Linked DNA regions of Homo sapiens. The protein of the gene in region 2 interacts with the protein of the main gene of each other region in a pairwise test. Each region holds a gene or a part of one and is shown on either strand. Other genes may lie near its edges.

Region 1 (8,965 bases), on a different chromosome or scaffold from region 2:
TGGTGACCTTGCCCAAGGTCATGGTCAGAGGGACAGCCAGCCCGGAGCCCTGGTCCTTCAACTTTCACAAAGGCCAGGGCTCTGGCCAAAACCTTCCCTGTCTTCCAGAGTAGGCAGCAGGAAGAGGTTCAGAATTGCTCTGCTGAGGCTCTGAGTGGAGGCACTGAGGGAGGAGCCAGATCCAGCCACTTTCAGAACCACGTTGTCGTCTACACATAAGAGAATGATGGCCAAGACCCCCAACAAGCAAAAAAGCCATCCTGGGGAGAGGAAGGCCACCCTAAATAGGTTTCCATGTCTGTTGATCTGAGTCCACCCTGCTCCCTCTAGGCTTTGGTTTCCAAATCTGTAAAATGCCAAGAATCCCACAGTTCCCCCAGCCACACTCCACCCAGAGCTGAGGCCCACCTCCCGTCGAGAGGCTGTTCTAAGATGTATGTACCTATCCTTCTAATGGATTAGCTAGAGACAGTTTAACAGTCTGATTTATCTCAGTCACCGGAAGAGTCTGCAGCCCCTGACACTCCCATGTGCACGCACACACACACACACACACACACACAAACCCGTGCGCGCGCACATAGGGCTCGTCTTAACCACAGCCTTTATCTCCGCACAGGGACTGCTGTTAATGCTGAGAATGGGCCTCCCTCTTGGTTTTGATAGGAGATTCAGACTAAAAATAGCCATGAGCTCCCTTCTAATGGCCAGGCTTTCAAATGATCTTGCTCGGGCTTTCTAGAGTGCTGGGAGGGAGTGGGAGGCTAGAGAGAGGGGTTTGGTGTTCTTGGGCAAATCTCGAGTTTCTTCCAGCATCACTGAACTCCTGGCCTATTTCCAGTACATAGGATTTGCAAATTCCTTATTCTCCTAAGCCTCTCTTTTGTTGAAATCTTCTGTTGAGAAATCCAGGCTTCATTTACAAGGGCACTGCTGCTAGAGAGGAAATAAGACCGGAAATAGAGGGCCTCACTTTGCAGAAACCCTAGGGAGGTGGGGAGTGTGGATTTCTTAAAAGCTAGGAAGACATGTGACCCAAGGGCACTCAGAGTGTCACCTGCAGGGACCAGGCAGCTGCTAAGAGGCTACAGCCTCTCATTAGCAGCCTCTTCCCTGGACCCCCTGCAGACAGGATCAGGGCTGTCAAAAGCACTGACGGCACCTGGTGGGTGCCTCTGCCAGCATGTCAAGGCCCTATGACTGTGGATGAAGCCACAGCCTTTGGATGAAGCCTCCTTAGGATTCCTCGAAGTCCCGCAGACCATTCTTGCCCCACCTCAGTGTCCAGCCCCATATCATGAGGGGTTGTAGAGCACAGACGGATCATTGCCACCACCAAATTGGGATAAACAGGCCTCAGGTAGTTGCACCTGGGTGGAAGTGTTTCTAAAATTAGAAAATTCCCTCCCTCTGGAGCAGTCATGTGGTTTCCAGGACATAACAGACCACTCCCGCATTGTTTACACCGGGTTCATTTGCTTCACCTCCCTGGCTCAGGATGTGGGGTTGGGGGGCAGGCGCCCATGGGTCCATGTGCATGCATGCGCCCGTGTGATGTCTAAGTGCCTCAGTTGCTGAGACGCGGCATCCATTGCCGCCCATGGAAGCAGACACAGCTGGGAAATGGCACACAGGCTGTGAGCACTCCACATTCCCCTGTGCGGATGCCGGAGCTCCTGCCTGTCCATCCCTCAAAGCAGGTTCTCCCCGTGTCCACTAGAGACAGGGTAAAGATGTCCTGAGTGTGAGACTCAGGCCCCAGAGGAGGCTCAGCCCTGTGACAGGTTCTCAGCACAGACCAAATGGCAGGAAAGGGGTCCTGGGAAATGGATTTAACTGAGCCTGGAGCACAGCGGTCCAGGGCACTCCTCCCCTGTGAGATGAGAAAGGACCTGTCCCACAGCATTGGTCCCAGTTGCAGGCTAGGAAAGCAGGGTTGGCTTCCCTTTGAACTTCAGCCATCCTCTTACCCTTTAACCTCAGGGGAATCTTGAATAACTCCTTTGCCACTCCCCAGCCCCTGCTGAGGTGGCCAGGAAGAGCATGGGAAGAGCCCCCTTTGTGGGACAGAGGAGGCACCTCTCAGGCCGTCCAGGCTGGGCATGGAGGGAAGGGGAGACATGTCCCTGAGCCCCGCCTTGTAGTGAAAGCCCTCCCCTCAGGCTGTGTCCTCACACACAGATGTGCATGGGCTTCCCCATAAGAGGCTTGCTCAGAAAATGTCTCTGGGCACTTGAGCAAGGCCTCCCAATTTCCCTCAGAGCAAAGAGGCTCCAGCTTGAGGCCCCACTGCCCCATCTCCAGGGCTGAATTTCACTCTTCCAGCCTCTGCCCAGAGCAGAGGTTGCTGAGAATGAACATGATTATTTGAGTATTTACTCAAATAATACTCAAAGCCCAAGCTTTGCACTGTGTATTTTAAATGCAGTATCGCATTTCATCCTCCTGTCATTGGGAGCATCATCATGTTCATCCTCATACCCACTGTACAGGAAGGGAAACCGAGGCCTGATGGAGCGAAGCATCTTGCTCAGGGTCTCACACCAGGAAGCAAGAAGACAAAGTTCCACCTGATGATGGTCTGCTCCTGAGACTCCACTCCTAATCGTTATTTCCTCCACCTGAATCAGGATTAAAAAGCATGTCCCATAGTATTTTGATGACCCCAAGATGCAGGATGCAAAACACACAGAGGAGAGCAGGAGAGGCTTGATCAGAACTTCCCCATCCTCTACCCTCATGCTCCTGCCCTTGGTCAGTTCTGATCAGTCAGGTGGGGTCATGGTGAGGACACACGTACAGTGAAGCACATAGTCAAGGATCACCAAACACTTTCTAAATCTCAAGACACCGATATTCATTGCAGCTATCCATTCTCTATCTCAAGATTGCCACACATGCTTTAACCAGCACCACCGTGACCTTCTCTAGCCAAATCTGCTCCTGGAACCCATCTGGGGACAGACAAATCTGCACACATTTCCAGGGGGAACTATCACAGTAGGGCTTGCCTTGATGGGTCCAGAGGTGCAGGGCTGACTGCATGCATTATGGTCATTGTCTCGCTCCAGCCCCACAAATGCCTGAGACGCTAGAGTGCTGGGCTCAGTCCTATTTTACAAATGAGGAAACTGAAGCTCAGAACATTGAGGTAACCTGGCAGAGGTCACATGGCCAGGAGACAGAGGTCCGGTGTTAGAACTCCACTCTGCCCAAACACAGGGCTGTGTTATGGCAGCTCCAAAGCAAAGGGCATGGCAGAGCCAGCAGGGCATGAGGGGATGGAGGCAAAGCCATTCTGAGTGAACTCTGCTTGTCAGGCTGACGTGCTGTTTCTCACAAATTGAGTGCTTGGAATCAACCTGGAATCACTGAGGGGTTTTATTTTGTTCCAGGTTTTGACCCATTAACCTGTTTCTCTATATAATGGACACAGCCACATTTTCAACTGCTCCCATGCTTCCCACACAGTTAGAGCATTGGCTTATTAATGTACATTAGGAGAAAAGAAGTATTTAAAACCCAGCTGTTCTCATTATATTTTAAAGGATAGAGCAAATGCATAGTTTGACCTTAGCCCTGTTCAAAGCCTTCAGGAAAACAAATGCTTCTGAAGCAGCCATCTTGGGCCCTCCATGCTAATTTTACCCCTCTTACATGTATATCCCCATGACCACCTCCTGCTGTTTAAGAAAGTGTCATGCACTCCAACGCCTCGCAAGAGATTTATCACCCAAGTGAGCCCACATTGTATTTTCAGACCTTCCAAGTGAATGTTGACTGTTTTCCTTTTCTGTTACAATTGGCTCCACAAGTAAATGGAATCTGCCTCCCTCTGTTCCCCCCACCTACCACCAACAGGCAATAGGATTTGGTTCAAACATTTCTTTTTTCACAACTTTGTGCCTGTGCCTTGCTTCTAGATTTATAACAAGAAATCTGAAACTTCAATTAGGTTTCATTTACTTGGCAAACTGTTGCTGAGTCCCCAGTGATCTGCTCCTGAGACTCCACTCCTAATCGCTATTTCCTCCACCTGAATCAGGATTAAAAAGCATGTCCCATAGTATTTTGATGACCCCAAGATGCAGGATGCAGTCCAGTCCTGCATCCCCAGTCCTGAGTCCCCAGTCATGCAGCATAGACACATGGATTAGAATGGCAAGACCTTGCCCTGTGGGAGTGTATGGGCTGGACAGAGAAGCAAACTAGTAAGTGCACATCCGAGCACCAAGCACTGCAGCGTAGTGTTTGGGAGGTGGGTCTGTGTCCTGGGACAATCACTGTATCTACCCTCTGGAGTTGTGAGGGCTCAATGAAACAATGGCTAAAGTAGCAAGCTGCCTGGCACATAGATTCTCACTCAGCATGGGCTAATTTTAGAGGAACGTGCAGGGCATGGAACTGTGTAGCATGAGTTATCAGCTCCTTTTGTTGGAAGGAAGAAGAAGGAAGATCCGAGGAAAGGAGCAAAGCAGTATGTGACTCATGAGGCTGGAAGGAGGAAGGGGCTACACTGTAAAGAGCATTATACTGGGAAACATTTCCCATCACATTCTGAGCTTGGGTTGTGAAGATCAGCCCACAGGAACTTGGCTATTTCTACACCACATATAGTAAGCCAACCAGAGGAAAGATGGCAGCCCTGTTTTATTTTTCATGGGATGACAGCTCTTTCAAGATTGTCCTGGGTTCTATTCAGCCTTCTGAAGAGGGCTGTGAACAAAAAGAAATGTTGTCTGACATAAGTGGCTGACACTGTGAAGAAGGGGCTCAGGAAACCCCCAGGAGACCAGGTAAGGGTCAGATGAAGAAGCCTGATGTGTGTGGAATGGACAGAGAACAATGGGAGCATGGACAATGCTTTCTGGAAACCTGCCATGTGGATGAGTGAGCAGATGCATTCTCCCTGAACACTGAGAAGGAATAGGAAGTGAATACCTCGGTTCTCCCTGACATTGAGACCTAAAAGAAATTTCTCCTGTGGGCCTGTATAAGTTTGTTTTCACACTGCTGATAAAGACATGCCCAAGACTGGGCAATTTACAAAAGAAAGAGGTTTAATTGGACTTAGAGTTCCATGTGGCTGAGGAAGCCTCACAATCATGGTAGAAGGCCAGGAGGAGCAAGTCACATCCTACATGGATGGCAGCAGGCAAGGAGAGACAGCTTGTGTGGGGGAATTCCTCTTTTTAAAACCATCAGATCTCTTGAGATTTATTGACTATCACGAGAACAACACGTGAAAAACTTGCCCCCCTGATTCAATTACCTCCTGCTGGTCCCTCCCACAACAGGTGGGAATTCAAAATGAGATCTGGGTGGGAACACAGCCAAACCATACCAGGGTACTTACAAGGGAGATGCTATTCTACGTGGGAGACACTATCCTCAGTAGTGCCAATGAACCATATGGGTCTGCAGAGTCCTTCCTCATCACCAAAGAGTGGGGTATCAGCACAGATGGCCTCACAGGTGAATTCTACCAACACTTAAGGAAGAAATATCTATTCCACACAAACTCTTCCAGAAATTTGAAAGGAGGCAATACTTCTCAACTCATTCTATAAAATTAGTATTTATGTGGATACCAAAACCAAAGATATTACAAGAAAACTATAGACTAATATTCTTCTCAATATAGATGCAAAAATTCTAAGCAAAGTTTTAACAAATACAAATATATTGAAAGAATGATATATCATAATCAAGTGGAGTTCATCTCAGAAATGCAAGGTTGTTTTAATATTTGAAAAATCAATTAATGTAACTTACCATGTGTTATGGACTAAATGTTTGTGTCCCCCCAGCCAAATTCATATGTGGAAATCCTAACACCCAACATGATTGTATTAGGAGGTAGGGCCTTCTCTGAATGGAAATAATGCCCTTATAAAAGAGACCTGAGAGAGCTCCCTAGGCCCTTCTATCATACAATGTGCGGTAACAGTGAGAAGACAGTTTTCTATAAGGAAGGGGTCCCTCAGATACCAAATCTGCCAGCATCTTGATCTTGCATTTCCCAGCCTCCAGCACTGTAGGAAATAAATTTCTGTTGTCTATAAGGTACCCAGTATATGGGATTTGGTTATAGCAGCCGAAATGGACTAAGACATCATATTTAAAAACTAAAAAAGAAAAACCATATTATCATCTAAATAGACACAAAGTTTTAAACGAAATCCAACATTCTTTTATGATTAAAATAAAACTATCATCAGCAAACTAGTAACAGAAGGAAACTCCCTCAACCTTAAGAGGTCATTACAGAAAACATACATCTACTTAAATGTAAAAGACCAGGTGCTTCCTCCTAAGATTAGGAACAAGGCAAGGGTGTCCACTCTACCACGTCCAGTCAGCATTGTACTGGAGGTTCTAGCCAGTGCAAGAAACAGAAACAAAATGCATACAGATTGTCCAGGAAAAAGAAAAATTTTATTCACAGATGACGTTATCATCTGTAGAAAATCTAATAGAATCTACCCCAAAAGCTACTTGAGCTAATGGAGGGAATGGCAACATTGCAGAAGACAAGCTTAATATATAATAATCAACTGTATTTCCATACATTAGCAACAAACAATTAGAAAATGAAATCTTTAAAAATACAAATTATAATAGCATTGAAAATCCGAAATATTTAGGGATAAATCTGACAAAAGATGTAAAACAAACTACACTAGAAACTAGAAAACATTGCTGAGAGATAACAAAGAAAATCTAAATGAATGGAGATGCATCTTGTTGATGGGTCAGAAGGCTCAATATCGTTAAGACATCAGTTCTCCCCCAAATTGCTATACAGTTTCAATAGGAGCTCAATCTGAAGTCTCTTCCAACTGAATGTCCAGAAATATCTGCCATGAAATCCTTCCCTTTTCCCACACTGTCTCTGAACCCTGGCTCATGTATATCAGCTGAACTGATCTCCACACGTAGGTAAACCTCCCCACCATGCTTACTGTTTGCCACAACTTCTGAGCTAAGAAGCCTGTGGCTACTACCTTACTGTCCCAGTGAATTCACAGCAACTGTTTCCAGCAACTCCATAGTCTTGGAAATGGTACAAATCTAGCTTTTCACCTCTACCCTGGCGGTGACCACCTCTCCTGGACCATCCACGCCCATTGTCATCAGCCTGGAGCGTCTTTCCCTGAGGTGTCTTTGGACACCCTGAGTCCAGCAGGAGATGAGAATGAAAAGAAGCAATAAATATACGCGGTGGGTTCGGAGGCTGCCCTCAGCAACAGTGAGTACAAAATTCTCATCCAATGCCCAGGGCATCCAGTGCCAAGGTTAGTGTGGCCTCTGATGACTGTGAAGCGTCCCATGTTACCACCAAGGGCATCACAATAAATGCAAGACATATGTCACAATTCAACCCATGGAGTCAGAACGGATAAGCAACAGTGGATCATGAGGTCAGCCCTATGGCAAAAGCAGCAGCAGCCTGAGGCCAGGGGAATATCCCCTCAGTAGGCAGCCCCGCAGATGGCCCCAGCCTCAGGAACATGCTGGCCTGAGCCCCGTGGGGACCCTAGCAGGGTTATGGAGGGCTAATACAAGAGATGTGGAGATAGATGGGAGTTTGGGTCACTTATATCCCAACTGGGCTTTGAGAAGGGACCTCAAAGTAAATTAGTGAACAACAAGCAACACTGGTGCACAGGGAACAGCTTTTTGGCCACAAAAAAACCCACAAGTGTGTTAATGGGAGCAAAGGATGAGAATAAACCCTCTCCTTCCACTGGAGAATACTGATGGGAACCGCCTGCCTCTTATAATAGCTTTCCTAGCCATCGTCTGCATTTGTGCAGCACTCTCATTTACTTAGACTGAGCAGTGGTCGGCACCATTTTGCATGTTTTTATTTTCCCCATTTTCCAGAATAAGATGCAGACCAAAGAGTTAATCACTTTCCTGAGGATGCAGGACTCAGCTTTTCTGATGCAGGCCCCATATTCTTTCTGCTCTGGTGCAGCCCCCTCCTAGCTTTCGTCAACCCATGCTGAGACCAGAGCTCCAGGATGAGAAGGATACTCACACAGTGGCTGCCCTGCCCAGGGCTGTACCACAGGCTCTTGGCCCAGGATCTCTGATCTCTGCTAAGCCTGAACTACAACAAACAGCTCAGGAAAGCAACACAGAAGCAAGCCCTGGACCCTGAGAGAAGAAAGTTCTTGTACCAAGGTTGGATCTGGCCCACACAGGAGGGACAGAGACTGGAGGGAAGGAGCTAACAAGATGAGAGAGGCCAGGCTTGTCCATGAATGGCTCCATCAAGGTGCGATGCAAGGCACCTCCTGGGATCATGCAGGGAGTGAGACAGAGGCGTGGGGTGAGCTGTGCTGGAGTGGGCATAAGGTACCTCTGTTGGGCTGGGGTGAGAGTAGCTGGGGAGCCTGAGGTGGGATAATAGGGAGGGATGGAAGGAGTCAAAGGCCACTAATGGCCGTGTCAAGCAGTGCTGTTCAGTGTTCCCTTGCCCCTCCACCTGGGCAGGAAAGACAGCACAGCCGGACTGAAGCACATCTCAGGGCGATTATTTCTTGTAGAGAATTTGGTGTCATGAGGCTCTGATTCTGCGGGTAGCAGGGCCTTTGTCCCATTGTTTGTCTCCATTGATTGGCTCCTGATCATTGATCAGCTAATCCAAAAATCAGCTCTTCAGTCCCTGGTCCCAGCTCAGGGTAATGCCCTGGGGGTATCTGTTCCAGTGAGTTGCTGATTCAGGCCAACCACTTCCACACTGGACTAGCACCCTGTGAAGGCAGAGCTTCCAAGACACCAGCCCCACTGCCCTGTGAGAAGTATGGAAGGCCAGAGCGCAGGCTAAATTCCAAGAGGAGCTAGAAGCCCTCAGACTCTGGGCCTCCCAAATCTCTAGATGCCAGGGCCAGAGCTACCACTCTCAGGGCCCACGAAGGGCCTACACTGCGCCTGAGGGAGGGAGTACCACCTT
Region 2 (7,371 bases):
ACACTCAGTTTGGGGGGAAAACTTTTTATGAACATCAAATTATTCTCTAGATACAGCCAGATTTACTGACTTGCCATGTGTAGGTCATAGAGCCAGGAATGAAATATGCGCAGCATAAAATAATAATCAATAATCCCATATCATTATGGTACTTGTTATTTATATTTTCCTGTTTCAACCTTTTATCATCCCTGCAAGGTAGAACATTCACACTGATATTTTCTTACCTATGCTACCCAAAGACATCAGCCCTAATTGTATTTTGGAAGATAGCTGACTGGGGCTGATTGCAACCTATGTCAGCAGGAATAGATGTTGTTACTGTTGTTGCTTCTGCTTTTTTTATTTCCATTTATTTGATAGTACAGATCTAGAGGGTTCTATCTGAACCTTCCCAACCTATACTTCATAATACCATCCCACTAAAGTGTGATACAAGAAACTTCTTCACTCTCTTCCCTCTACCTATTTATGAAGGCAGATAATAAACTGGATAATATTTATCTTCACTTATTCAACAAACATTTATTGAGTGCCTACTAGGATGGTGGCAGTGGCAGTGAAGGAAATGCAAGGATACAAGATATAGAATCAAGGGTTACTCTTAGAATTTTTGCTTTATAAAACAGATGGATGGTGAATGAGATAGGGAAGACTGAGAAAAGAACAGGATAGAGACATGATTTTATTTTATAGTGACAAAGAGGCTAAAAACAACTGAGAGAACTTCAGTATATTTAGTTGTAGTTGCTTTGTGAGTCAGGGCAGTTGCATTTGGAATTCCCTCCCAGATTATGTTTTCCAAAGGGAAATCAAACCCAATTAATAAATCTGTGTCTCCATTTCAGGTCAAAGGAAAAATGATAATGAATTCATTGAGCCTCTTTGCTGCCATTTCTGGAATGATTCTTTCAATCATGGACATACTTAATATTAAAATTTCCCATTTTTTAAAAATGGAGAGTCTGAATTTTATTAGAGCTCACACACCATATATTAACATATACAACTGTGAACCAGCTAATCCCTCTGAGAAAAACTCCCCATCTACCCAATACTGTTACAGCATACAATCTCTGTTCTTGGTAAGTGTTCTTGGTAAGTGTGAGATTGGATTTCTCTCCAGGGAGGAAGGATGACTTGTTTATTATGAGCATGAACTCTGGATCCAGACCACCTGAGTTTGCTAGTTACTGTCTGTGTGGCTTTGGGAAAGAATTTTAACCACACTGTGCCTCAATTTCTTCAACTGTAAAATGGGGATGGTAACACTATTTATCTAATAGGGTTGTTCTGAGGAATAAATAAGTTAATATATACAAAGCATTTAGAACAGTGTTTGGTACACAGAAGTGCTATATAAGCATTGGCTTTAACATTAATTATTCTCAACATCATTAATGGCATTAATATTTACCATTATATTAACTAAGATGAGCATAGAAGAAATTCCTAAGATGTTATGAATATCTTTTGCCCAAGGACTTTTAAATGTAGAGTTTGAAAGAGATAAAAAAAAATGCATCTCCCAAGGATGAAGAGGTCTCCTAGGCATGATGCCACACCAACTAAGGCTGAATACAATTTAATTTGAGACTCATTACTTATTCTTTCCTATACAGAATTGATTCTTCAACTGATTATTCATACCTTACTTTCTATCAGCAATACACATTAACCATCTGTTGTGTGCCAAAAGTTGTGTTAAGAGTTAGGGTTATAAAGATGCTGTCTCCTGTACTAGCAGTTCTCACAGCTATTCATTACTTGTCTAAAGAATTGATCTCTTAATCGTTCAATTATAGTCAACAATAACTTACTGAACACCAACAATGTTCTTTGTGCCATTATTACATTTTCACCTTCATTCTTCTGTTGTTTTTCAGGGCATTTTGTCAGTGATGCTGATCTTTGCCTTCTTCCAGGAACTTGTAATAGCTGGCATCGTTGAGAATGAATGGAAAAGAACGTGCTCCAGACCCAAATCTGTAAGTAGTAGCCCCTCTGGCCAAAACCTCCCTCTAGAAAATCCACATCCACAAAGGATCATTTATGGAGAATGTAATCTGATGAGTTGTTGAAACTAGGAGCTTGATTTAAAAAAAAAAATTGGTCTTGGCATATTTCTAGAAAGCAAATAATATGATGTCTTGAAATTTGAAATAAGTCTGTAGTTAGAGCCTACAGTTCTATATTCTGTGCGTCTTTTTTTTTTTTTTTTTTGAGACAGAGTCTCACTTTGTTGCCCAGGCTAGAGTGCAATGGCGCGATCTTGGCCCAGTGCAACCTCTGCCTCCGGGTTCAGGCGATTCTCCTGCCTCACCCTCCCGAGTAGCTGGGATTACAGGCACCCGCCATCATGCCTGGCCAATTTTTGTATTTTTGTAGAGACGGGGGTTCACCATGTTGGCCAGGCCAGTCTTGAACTCCCGACCTCAGGTGATCCTCCCACCTCAGCCTCCGAAAGTGCTGGGATTGCAGGCGTGAGCCACCATGCCCCACCTCTGTGCATCTTCTTATTAACCTTCCCTGCTGCTTGACTTCAGGCTTCCATCCTGATTTCATGATTCCATATACAGTGTGTAAAAGCAAGATGGTTGAAGGTTGAAGGCTAAGTCACTAGTTCTTTGGTTTCATTTTTCAGTATTCCCCTCTTCCCTCCTTTTCACCTAATTCCTCTTCCAAAACAACAGGTTAAAGGGCTCCACAAATGGGAAATAAAAACAGACCAATAATAGATATATTACTAACTGCTTCAGAACCAGACTGTTAGATTTAGAATTTAGAAATCATCGCTAATTACTTCATTTTGCATTTAAAGAAAAATAGTATCAAAGAGAGAAAATTATTCTCCCAGAGTTATATTCACTAAAGGCAAATCAGAACGAAAATCTAAACTCCTCTATTACTGCAATGTTCTTTTCCCAATACCACGTGGTCATTCCAGGCACTGTGGTCAATGTCTGCTGCCCTTGAAGATTTATTCAGACTTGAGTTTTAATAAATGACTTGATAAGGATATAAGCACCTGCAAAAAAATTTTGGCATTTAAAGGCATATAATAAATGACATAAGTAGCATAAAAACCAGGAGGTATTTGATAAATGTTTGTGGAGATTGTTGACAAAGGTGTCAGTGGTAAAAGTAAAGAATGGTTTGTTTAATTTTCTGTTTTAGAACATAGTTCTCCTGTCAGCAGAAGAAAAAAAAGAACAGACTATTGAAATAAAAGAAGAAGTGGTTGGGCTAACTGAAACATCTTCCCAACCAAAGAATGAAGAAGACATTGAAATTATTCCAATCCAAGAAGAGGAAGAAGAAGAAACAGAGACGAACTTTCCAGAACCTCCCCAAGATCAGGAATCCTCACCAATAGAAAATGACAGCTCTCCTTAAGTGATTTCTTCTGTTTTCTGTTTCCTTTTTTAAACATTAGTGTTCATAGCTTCCAAGAGACATGCTGACTTTCATTTCTTGAGGTACTCTGCACATACGCACCACATCTCTATCTGGCCTTTGCATGGAGTGACCATAGCTCCTTCTCTCTTACATTGAATGTAGAGAATGTAGCCATTGTAGCAGCTTGTGTTGTCACGCTTCTTCTTTTGAGCAACTTTCTTACACTGAAGAAAGGCAGAATGAGTGCTTCAGAATGTGATTTCCTACTAACCTGTTCCTTGGATAGGCTTTTTAGTATAGTATTTTTTTTTGTCATTTTCTCCATCAACAACCAGGGAGACTGCACCTGATGGAAAAGATATATGACTGCTTCATGACATTCCTAAACTATCTTTTTTTTATTCCACATCTACGTTTTTGGTGGAGTCCCTTTTGCATCATTGTTTTAAGGATGATAAAAAAAAATAACAACTAGGGACAATACAGAACCCATTCCATTTATCTTTCTACAGGGCTGACATTGTGGCACATTCTTAGAGTTACCACACCCCATGAGGGAAGCTCTAAATAGCCAACACCCATCTGTTTTTTGTAAAAACAGCATAGCTTATACATGGACATGTCTCTGCCTTAACTTTTCCTAACTCCCACTCTAGGCTATTGTTTGCATGTCTACCTACTTTTAGCCATTATGCGAGAAAAGAAAAAAATGACCATAGAAAATGCCACCATGAGGTGCCCAAATTTCAAATAATAATTAACATTTAGTTATATTTATAATTTCCAGATGACAAAGTATTTCATCAAATAACTTCATTTGATGTTCCATGATCAAGAAAGAATCCCTATCTCTATTTTACAAGTAATTCAAAGAGGCCAAATAACTTGTAAACAAGAAAAGGTAACTTGTCAACAGTCATAACTAGTAATTATGAGAGCCTTGTTTCATAACCAGGTCTTCTTACTCAAATCCTGTGATGTTTGAAATAACCAAATTGTCTCTCCAATGTCTGCATAAACTGTGAGAGCCAAGTCAACAGCTTTTATCAAGAATTTACTCTCTGACCAGCAATAAACAAGCACTGAGAGACACAGAGAGCCAGATTCAGATTTTACCCATGGGGATAAAAAGACTCAGACTTTCACCACATTTGGAAAACTACTTGCATCATAAATATATAATAACTGGTAGTTTATATGAAGCAGACACTAAGTGCTATAGACACTCTCAGAATATCATACTTGGAAACAATGTAATTAAAATGCCGAATCTGAGTCAACAGCTGCCCTACTTTTCAATTCAGATATACTAGTACCTTACCTAGAAATAATGTTAACCTAGGGTGAAGTCACTATAATCTGTAGTCTATTATTTGGGCATTTGCTACATGATGAGTGCTGCCAGATTGTGGCAGGTAAAGAGACAATGTAATTTGCACTCCCTATGATATTTCTACATTTTTAGCGACCACTAGTGGAAGACATTCCCCAAAATTAGAAAAAAAGGAGATAGAAGATTTCTGTCTATGTAAAGTTCTCAAAATTTGTTCTAAATTAATAAAACTATCTTTGTGTTCTTTTCTGCAACAGATGATTCCAACATGGGTGTTTGTCTATTCTTCTTTACTCTTGAAACATTAGACCATGGGAGGCTCTTACAGCCTTGAGTTGATATTTATACAACCCAAATCTAGGTTTGAACGGTGAGGTGTCAGGTCATCAAATATTCATGTCTATATAGTCTTACACAGGTTCTCAAAAAAAATGTTCATGGGATAGGTCATTGATAATGGATTCCTTATTCTGAGAACTCCAGACGACTGAAATATATGAGAGAAGGAAAAGGACATAGTAGGAGCAGGCCTGAGAAAAAAATGAAAGTCAGAAATCTTTAAAAAAATACAAGATCTTATTTCTATCTTATTTTTTCTCCTCTTCTGAAATATATATGAGGATTCCTCTCCAAACCCATGGTTTCTCTAAGAATTTTGAGTCATTTGTATGACCTCAAATAATTAGTTTTAGCTGACCTCACATAACTCCTTATAATAGGAGACATCTTTAATGTCTGCTATTAAAGAAGGATGAAAATTCCTATGACCTTCTCCCCGATTATCCCTTTGGCAATATAGAGTCAAATAATAACATTGACCAATAGTAAACATGCTTTGCCAAGAAGTAGAAGATATATTCTCTAGCCTTAGTTTTTCCTCCCAATTTGCATTTTTGTAAAAATAATGTTGTATCCACAAAGGAAATAAACTTTAAAAACCCAAGTGCACTCATTGACTAGGAGGCTGACGTAACTTATTTTCATTTTCTTCTGGTTTTCTTATAATCTTTGTTTAAAATAAGGTGATAAACCATCCCAGTTTGTCTGAGTCTGAGGGATTTCCTGGGATACACGATTTTCAATGTTAAAACCAAGATAGTCCCAGGCAAACAGGATAGTTGATTATCCTACTTCATAGTAATAGATTACTCACTTACAATCACTGCATAATATTTACTTTTTACATGTAACAGTATATCATAGATTTTTCCTTATTGATACATAATTTCATAAGCATCACTTAATTTCAACTTAGGATTTTATGAATCAATATAAATTTACCATTCCTCTATTATTGGATATGTAGGGTATTTCCTTTTCTTTCTTTATACAAATCACTTTTGGAGCACAGAAATCATGAGCAAGATACATGTTTCCTCTTATTATTCAAAATGTAGCTTTACATTTAAAGTCTTGTCAACATTGACCAGTAGGAATTACTAGCACCTGTTAAAACCCAGAAAATTTACCTTTAATTTCACATCAACAAGAGAATAGTCAAAGATCCAATACACAGAAATAGTTACTTCAGATTCATTTAGCTTGAGTTCATTTAAGAAATCTGATTTGTTTTAAATTCTTGGTGTATAACATAAAACACTGATGGAGGGGTTCAAATCTGAAATTTTCCTAGGTTAAGTCTTCAATCCTTTAGTGAGCTTCCTTTTATGGAAAACTTGGTTGTGTGTTCTGAGCTAAAAAGTACCAAGTCATAAATGAATATGATAGAATCATGTGGTGGCAAAATCAAAGCAAAGTTACAATTATCCTCTATTGACCCCAGCCTACTCAGCAGTGCAAAATGCTGAGAAAGAATAAATAAGTTGTCTACCCTTAGAACTTACTACCTGGCTGGAGAAAGAGAAATTAGTTCATCAGGTACCTGTTATGGGTAAAGCATTTTGTTAAGTATGGTGGGGTACAGATAAAGATAGGAGAAGCTCCCTGATCTCAAAAATCTTACTGCCTAATTGAGAATGATATAAGCATATGTATTAAAAGATAACCAATAAAGGTCCAAGAAAACTCAATGTGAAAATAACAATCTTTTCAACAAACTGTGGTGGGACAACTGGATAGCCATATACAAAAGAATAAAATTGGATACCTACCTCACGCCATACACAAAAATAAAAATGGAGGCCTAAATGTAGGAGCTAAAATTATAAAACCTCTTAGGAGAAAACATAGGTATACATTTTGTTACCTTGGAAAGGCAATGAGTTCTTCAATATGACACCAGAGGCACAAGCAACCAAAGAAAAAATAGATAACTTTGTTCTTAAACAAACAAACAAAAGAAACAAAGAAGGAAAATAGGAAGGAAGAGAAAGAGAAAAAAAGAAAGGAAGTAAAGGAAATAAAGAAGGACACAACTTTACTCCATACTGTTTGGGTTTTGAGTTTTGGTATACTTTAGACTCCCAAGAAGGAATTTAGAATAGGAGTTACCAAATGGATGCACATTAGCATGAAGTGAGAGTTTTCCAAAGCCCTACTGCCTAAGCTGAGCCCAGATATAATCATTAGAATCTCTGGGCTAGCAGATGTCTATTAGGTCTGCTTGGTGCAGAGCTGAGTTCAATTCCTGGGTATCCTTGTTAACTTTCTGACTCACTGATCTGTCTAATGTTGACAGT

Evidence for each region.
Region 1: the proteins of MS4A1 (region 2) and TMEM72 interact in binary tests that used the Homo sapiens proteins (3 or more experiments, as listed by UniProt).

Annotation. Positions count from the first base shown.
Region 1 is NC_000010.11:44,912,916-44,921,880, forward strand, and holds part of TMEM72 (transmembrane protein 72), read left to right. Parts: intron 1-8,965.
Region 2 is NC_000011.10:60,465,073-60,472,443, forward strand, and holds the end of MS4A1 (B-lymphocyte antigen CD20), read left to right. Parts: intron 1-848; coding exon 849-1,085; intron 1,086-1,886; coding exon 1,887-1,988; intron 1,989-3,177; coding exon 3,178-3,396; 3' UTR 3,397-5,680; downstream 5,681-7,371. UniProt on the Homo sapiens protein: B-lymphocyte-specific membrane protein that plays a role in the regulation of cellular calcium influx necessary for the development, differentiation, and activation of B-lymphocytes.